2 linked regions of the Homo sapiens genome follow. The protein of the gene in region 1 purifies or fractionates together with the protein of each later gene. This does not show direct contact. Each region holds a gene or a part of one and is shown on either strand. Other genes may lie near its edges.

Region 1 (3,825 bases):
GATATAATTGTTTTAAGAGTAACATATATTTGAAAAGGTATGTTGAAATGCCTCATCTTTTGCAATATGATTTGAGTAGTATTGTTGCAATGTAGAACCTTTGTCAATTTGATTTTTCAAAATGATTTACTGTGGAGAGTCAGCAGGAAAATCCTCCAGTACTCGGAACTCTGTTGTTCTTAATTCCACTGGACAGGTGGAATCAACATAGGAACTGTGATGTGTTAGATACAAGGGTGACTCTGGTGACCAGGAATAGAAGCCAAGTGCAATGCCCTCAGAATCTGTGGCCCTGCAAACCAGACTGAACCCGTGCTGTTTATCCCACTCCTGACAGTTTATCCCACTCTTGACACTTCCCCTTGAGCTGCCAGATATTGTTGGAGCAGTGCAGCATAAGAAAGGAGAATGAACACTGGACTGGGAATGAGCAAACCTCTTTAATCTTATTCCATCTCTGATTCTGTCTAGTTGTGTGGCTTTTGGCATGTCTCTGACAAGTGACCATTGGTTGCTTATCTGTAAGTGGAAAGGTTAGACAAGGTCATCTCTTCTGTCTTTAAACTTCTGTGATTTGAGCAAGGCAAGAACAACGTGAGATCCTTCATTGGATGAGTGGTACTGCCACTTCCTCCGCATTCATAGAGAGAAAAGGTAGTTAAATAATGTATCTTTATCTTTCCTTTTTGCTCTTCACCCGATATTGGTGAGTAAAGAGCCACAGTCAATGACAGTGACAAGATAAATGAAGTTCCAGGCTCATGCTGATATTTGTGGGTCCAAGTGTAATATACTGTAATATATTGTCTTAACAGGTACCTGTAGGGCAGCTTGAGAATGAAAGAAAAAGCAGCTCTTTTTGCTTTTTTTGGCTTTGACACATAAAAGATGTCAGTATCTAGGTATTTCTAAACCTGTAGAGGGATTTTCTTTAGTCTTTTCCTCCCAGCCAGCACTTGGTGTAGTGGAGGCCACATTTCTCATTAGCTTGTCCTATGGCATATAAAAGTAAACAATAATGAAAAGGTCATTAGTGTAATACATATTTAGGCTCAGTTACTACCAGTTAAAGCGGTGCTTAAAAATTTAAATTTAAGCACCTGTTCACATATTTAAGTAGCATTACTAATTAAAAATTAACTCCTTTTCTAGAACTAAAACTGAGAATTGGTATTTTGGTAACCATTCTGCTAGGAAGCTCTACCACATTACTCAATATTATGGGATCCCTGAAGTGAACTGAAAGGGAGAAAGTTCAGTGGTGATGTTGCAGCTTTCTACCTTCCTTTGTCAAAACTTCCTGTTTCAGTAGGGAAATGGGAAGAGTGAGAGAGTTGTTTCCTTTCTCTTTCCTGTCTTCCTCTCTGAAGACAAAGTCACTGTGAACTCATTAAAAGGAGTCTAGATTGGTTAATTTGGGTTGACTAGCTAGATTCATTTGAAATGAATAGCTATAATATTTTCTTTGGTATTCTTTTTTTTTTTTTTTTTTTTTTGAGACGGAGTCTTGCTTTGTCGCCCAGGCTGGAGTGCAGTGGCACAATCTCGGCTCACTGCAAGCTCTGCCTCCTGGGTTCACGCCATTCTCCTGCCTCAGCCTCCACAGTAGCTAGGACTACAGGCACCCGCCACCACGCCTGGCTAATTTTTTTGTATTTTTTAGTAGAGACGGGGTTTCACCGTATCAGGATGGTCTTGATCTCCTGACCTTGTGATCCACCTGCCTCAGCCTTCCAAAGTGCTGGGATTACAGGCGTGAGTCACCGCACCAGGCCTGGTATTCTTTACTAAAACATAAATCATTAAAATAATTTGATTCATGCTTTGCTTTAAAAAACTGTTCAGTCATCTACTTTAGCTCACCTCCCTGGAAAATGAATTGTGTCAGAACATTCAGATATGCTTTCAACTAAATAATGTTTATGTTATAGATACATAAACAAAATCTTAAAAAATAAATACAAAGCATTCTTTATTTCACTATTCTTTATATGCAAAGCTAGTTTCATGGATTATGGCATGGCATTTTTGTTTGTTGGATGGTTTTTGTGTTTAATCACAGTTTTGGATTAACCTCTATGTTTTATATTAAGAAAGTTGACCTAGGAGTTGGGAGACATAGATTCTATTCTTAGTACTGCCACAAAAAAATTGTATAACCTTGGATAAACTACCAGATCTCTTTAGACTTTAATTTCTTCATGTATAAAGTGAGAGGGGCTTAGATTTGAAAATCTTTATGGTCCCAAATAGTTCTAAATCATAACTTGTGAATTTCTGTCTTTTGAGGAAAAAAATAGATTTTTAAAAAGTACTAAAATGACCATTTTGTAATACCATCTCCTGCATCTGTTTTTCCCTGTGGCACTACGTTTTCTTCTGGTTATGCTCTGAACATAACCCCCTTGACTCTATCCTACCGTTCTGCCTGTGCCCTTGTTATACTAATTTTAGTTATCCTTTTTGTTTTGGATTTTTTTACGTCTCTTTGCAAATACAGAGACCAAAAGTGGAACCGACAACCACGCTGGCCTGTGAATGCTGAGTCTGATTCTTTTATGGCATTTTTGTTGTCCAGGGAGGTCGAATTACCTTCTGAATTAAAATCCTATACGCTTTATGCTCTGCTATTCGGGAGAACAGTGTTATTCTGAAGATAGCATTGAGTTTTATAAGATTTGAGCCTTGAGACTGCCACTTACTATTAGGTTGCCATAGGATTCTTGGGCTAGTCATTTAACCTCTCTAAGCCTCAGCTTCTATTGCTTAATGTATACAACCTGTTTCTTGCCCAGGAGGCTGTGAGGATTGAGTAATGTTATACATCTGAAAGTGTTTTCTAAAATATAAAGATTTATGACCTTATTGTAGTTGGTTCCACCCCAGTACAATATGCATTCTGAAGTCAGTATTTATCGAGTACCTACTCTGAGGAGAATCAGTAAGAAGTTTATAATCAGACTGGGGATTTATATAAAGTTAAGTGTTACGCACCATAAGAAAGCTATAGCCTAAATTTCTGCAAAAGTTTAGAGAGATTATTTCTGGTTGGAGGTACTTAACAATAGGACTATATTTCTTACATTTATTTTGTAGGCCATTATGTATTTAAAAAGCCATTCTTGGACTTAGGCAGGCTTTTCCTTATTGTGCTAGTACCATTTGATTTTTATTCATAAATACACTAGCTTGGTTGTTTTCTATAACTAGCAACTATTTCTACTTTTTTTTTTTTGCGATGACTCCAACTCTTCATGTCATTTGCTAATTTACTTCCATTTTCATCTTCTGGTTCACTGTTGAAGAATACTAAATTTTGATCCAGTTTTGATCCAGGATTTACTTTTTTTTTTTTTTTTTTTTGAGACTGGGTCTTGCTCTGGCTGTCACTGAGGCTGGAGTGCAGTGGCATGATCCTGGCTCACTGCAACCTCTGCCCTTCTGGTTCGAGTGATTCTTCTGCCTCAGAATCCTGAGTATCTGAGATGACAGGCACCTGCCACCATGCCTGGCTAATTTTTTTGTATTTTTTAGGTAGAGACAGGGTTTCGCCATGTTGGCAAGGCTGGTCTCCAACTGCTGGGCTCAAGTGATCCAATCGCCTTGGTCTCCCAAAGTGTTGGGATTACAGGCATGAGCCACTCACTGCACCTGGCCCTTTTAGTATATTTCTTAAAATATCTTTCAAGATTGGCTTTGAAACTATGGTGACTTTCTAGCAGTGTATGCACATCCAAAATATATGTAGTTTATTAATGAGAATCATATGGGGTCTCTTCTGAAGCACAGACTACTTACTGTGTATATTGTCTACCCTCCTCCCAT
Region 2 (3,825 bases), on another chromosome or scaffold:
TGAATTTCTTCATGCTTGGATGAATCTTGGCAGACAGCAATTTTCTTGAATAAAGAAAGATGTAGTTGGTATAGAGATGCAGTCATATGAGGAGTAGAAGATGAAGCTTGAGATGGTTTTTGGTTTTTTTTCCCAATAGGGTAACAGATCTGCACTGACTTACTCACTTTTATCCATCTAGTTTCCTTTGTGCCCAGTTCCACTTCTCAGACATGACTCAAGAGATGCATAATTTACTTTAATTAAATGACCAAGCTCCCTCCTTGTTGTAGCTCATAAACTGTGAATATTGGTTACACCTGTTAACATCAGCCGCAGAACAAGTCTGCCCGTCAAAAATGTTATTATTTCATTGGGTATTTAAATGCCACAGAATTTGAGGAACTATAATTAAACATGACAATGTTGATTTTTATATTTGGATTTATAGGAGAGAGAAAAGAACTTTAATTCACTAATAAAAATATAATCTGCTCATATCCTCGAAGAATTCTTTAAAAATTCATTATGTATTTAGCACATAGCATTTAAATACATGTATTTTGGGGGCAGGGAGAATCTGTTATTTATTTACAAACATTTTTAGAGATTCTAAAGGTAAAAATTACAACTGTGATTAGAAGGCTCATTCAGAATTTATTGACACACAACTCTGCTTTCTAAGATGGTTCAATGTTTAGAGGCTGGAGGACTGGGCAAAAATAGTAATCGTAATGAATAGCTCAACTCTAGTTTCATGCACGTGCAATTTATTAATGGGGCCTAAAGTTGTAAATTTGTGATGAATTAACAAATAAGTGACATGAGAGGAAATGATAGGGGAGGAGAGAGGAAAGCATTGGGTTATTTCAGAGAAAAGTAGGCAGAGAAAGGCAGTTTAGGAGGTGACACAAGAGGGAAGCCTAAGGAGAGAGAACTGGATGGAGCTTCCCAGGTGATGACAGGGTTGAACTCCAGGGCTATACCCAGCTGAGCAGGGAGAGCTTTGCCTCTTCAGGAGACTGGAAGTTGGGGAAGACTCCAACAGGCTTGTGGTCAGAAGCTCAGGAGACTGGGAAGGAAAAGTGAATTTCTGAGGAGTCCTAGTTCATTTCATTAATTTGTTCAATTCTTTAACGTATGTTTATTATGGACCTACTATGTGCCAGACGCTGTGCTAGCTGTTAGGGACACAATGATGAACAAAATAGGCATAGTTTTTTACCCCATGAGAGTTAGAGGGTGGTGGGGAGAGTCATTAATCAAATGGCACAAACACATGTAAAATTACCATAAAGCGGGTGATACAGAAAGGCGACTGGTGTTAGGATAGCTAAAAAAGAGGGATTTCACCTGGTCAGGTGGGTCAGGGAAAGCTTCTTAGAGAAAGAGGGACTTGGGCTGATGAATGAAAGGTGAATATGCCAGGCAAAGAAGAGAGGGAGGAGGCTTCTAGGCAGAAGGAACTTCCTGTGCAATGATTCTCTGAGAATGAAAGATTAACAAAGGCCAATGTAAGTAGAACAGAGTGAGCCAGGAGGCGCAGAGTGAGAGAGAGGCCAGGGCAGGGCCATACGTGGAGCCAAAACATACGGGGCTTTGTAGGTCATGCTGAAGAGTTTACTTTTGTCCTCAGAGCAATGGGAAGTAATTGCACAGCTTTGAGCCAGGAAGGGAAAGACAGGTACTAGGCCCCATCCTCAGTGGAATTAGGTAGGTTTGGGGTGGGACCTGAGAAGTACATTTCTAAGGTTCTTAGGTGTCAGTGCCGCTACTTCAGGACCACAGTCTGAGAACCTGGCTTTAATTAATTGATATTAGAGTGAGTGAGAAGCTGGGGGAAATTTTAGGAAGGGTGCATGCATGCATAGGAGTGTTGGGATTAAAATGAAGCCTATTGATTAAATAGTCTCAGGCATAAATTGGAGAAACTATTTGTAAATAAGCCTTTCTTATAATTACCATTTGTAATAGGTATCAAAGACAAAGCAGAATGAGGCTCTTGTACGAATGCTACTTGATGCTGGCGTCGAAGTTAATGCTACAGATTGTGTAAGTTTATACTTTTAGCCATTTTGAAAAAATATTCAAAATGGTATTTGTAGGTAGCGTATTTGTCATCTGTACAGTTGCTTTATTTTCCTAGACAATTTTACATTTAGTTTTCTTTTATTTTCTCCTTTTTTTTCCCACTGACAGGCAACCTTGAGGTTATTTATATTCTGCTGAACTCATGGGAATAATACCTCTATTGATTATAAAGCATTTTTAAAATAATTGGCTTTAATGTTGTTGAGACGTTAAGGAAAACTAAGGCTCCGATAACAAAATACCAGCCATAATAGTTAAGAAGCTGGAGTGAGAATGCCCATGAGTAAACTCTGGGCTTGCCACTTTTTACTTCTATGAGTTTGAGCAAGTTGTAAACTTATTTTACTTTCAGTGTCCTCATCGGTAAAATGGGGATATGGATAATACTTATCTCATTGGGCTTGTTCATGTAAAGCACTTAGCACATGCTCAGAATGTAGTAAGTGCTCATTGAATGGCAACAGCTGCCACTGCAGCCAAAATCCCAACCCACTGATGAGAGGCCCCGTGTGCAAACTACAGATAAATAAGACAAAGGTCAAAGAAAAATCCCACTGATGGTAAGAGCAGTGATAACAACAGTAGCAGCATCCGCTCACTTCTTCCTGTTTATGAGCATAAGGTGTTGTTTTCACTTTCACCTCTGTGCTCTTGCACTCATCTTTCTTTCTCAATGATCACAGAAAGACAAAAGTTTATTTCTATGGTGTTTTGCTTATGGTGATTGAATAAAATTTTGGATTCCCAGTTCCTTATTGAAAAAGTAGGCAAGTGGAAATTTGATTCCAAAATACTAACATTCTATTTGTGATGCCTAACATATTTTACGTGTGTGCACATCTGTGTGTATTACCATTGTTTTATGATAGAGACCATGGCCCCATTCCTGTTTCTATCAATTATTTACATCATTTCGGTTTTGCCTATGCTGGTATCATGTTTAAATGCAGGCAGTTGTGTGTGTGTGTGTGTGTGTGTGTGTGTGTGAGAGAGAGAGAGAGAGAGAGAGAGAGCAAAAGAAAATAACTTTATGAAATTTATATTCCCTTTTATTTCAAATAGAACTTTTGGATAAATTTGTATTGACAGTTACTGTGCATTACCATTTCTTTAGATAGCTTTGAAATATATTAAGTAAGAGATTATTAAAGATGAAGTTAAAAGTTTGTTGAAGGTTTTTCTTGGTCTTTTCATTTAAATTCAATAGATTTAATATTCCTGCCTGTGACCAAAATTTCTCTAGGATATTTTCTCAGCAATTTATGTGTATTTCTCTCTCTAGATAGAGATATTGCATTCCTTCAGCTAGGCACAGTGACACTAGCCTGTAGTCCCAGCTACTTGGAAGGCTGAGATGGGAGGATCCCTTGAACTCAGGAGTTTGAGACACATGCAGGTACACACACAGACACCACTTCTAATACCAAAATTTTTTCAAAAACTATCTGAGTATTAAAATCTACTTTCTAGGTAAGACAGTGTTTTGTATTTTTGGATAATTAGACTCTATTTCACATGACAAAATTCAGAGCCAGAACTTCCATTTGTCATGCCACCACTTAATAAAAATAAATAATTGCAACATGATCTCCTATAATTTTAGAGGTGTTTCTAGGGAATGGGATCCAGAGCTAAACCTGTCTTGATAGCCAAAGGTACTATTTCTTCACTCACCAGCACCATGGTTGCTTGGCTACTTTTCCAAAGGCCAAATTTTGGACACTAATGCCCTAGCTATAATTTTTTTGACCTGTA

Evidence for each region.
Region 2: the proteins of VPS13C (region 1) and ANKRD22 purify together in Homo sapiens (co-immunoprecipitation; one large-scale study listed by IntAct). This does not show direct contact.

Annotation. Positions count from the first base shown.
Region 1 is NC_000015.10:62,050,344-62,054,168, reverse strand, and holds part of VPS13C (intermembrane lipid transfer protein VPS13C), read left to right. Parts: intron 1-3,825. UniProt on the Homo sapiens protein: Mediates the transfer of lipids between membranes at organelle contact sites. Necessary for proper mitochondrial function and maintenance of mitochondrial transmembrane potential.
Region 2 is NC_000010.11:88,824,244-88,828,068, reverse strand, and holds part of ANKRD22 (ankyrin repeat domain-containing protein 22), read left to right. Parts: intron 1-1,953; coding exon 1,954-2,031; intron 2,032-3,825.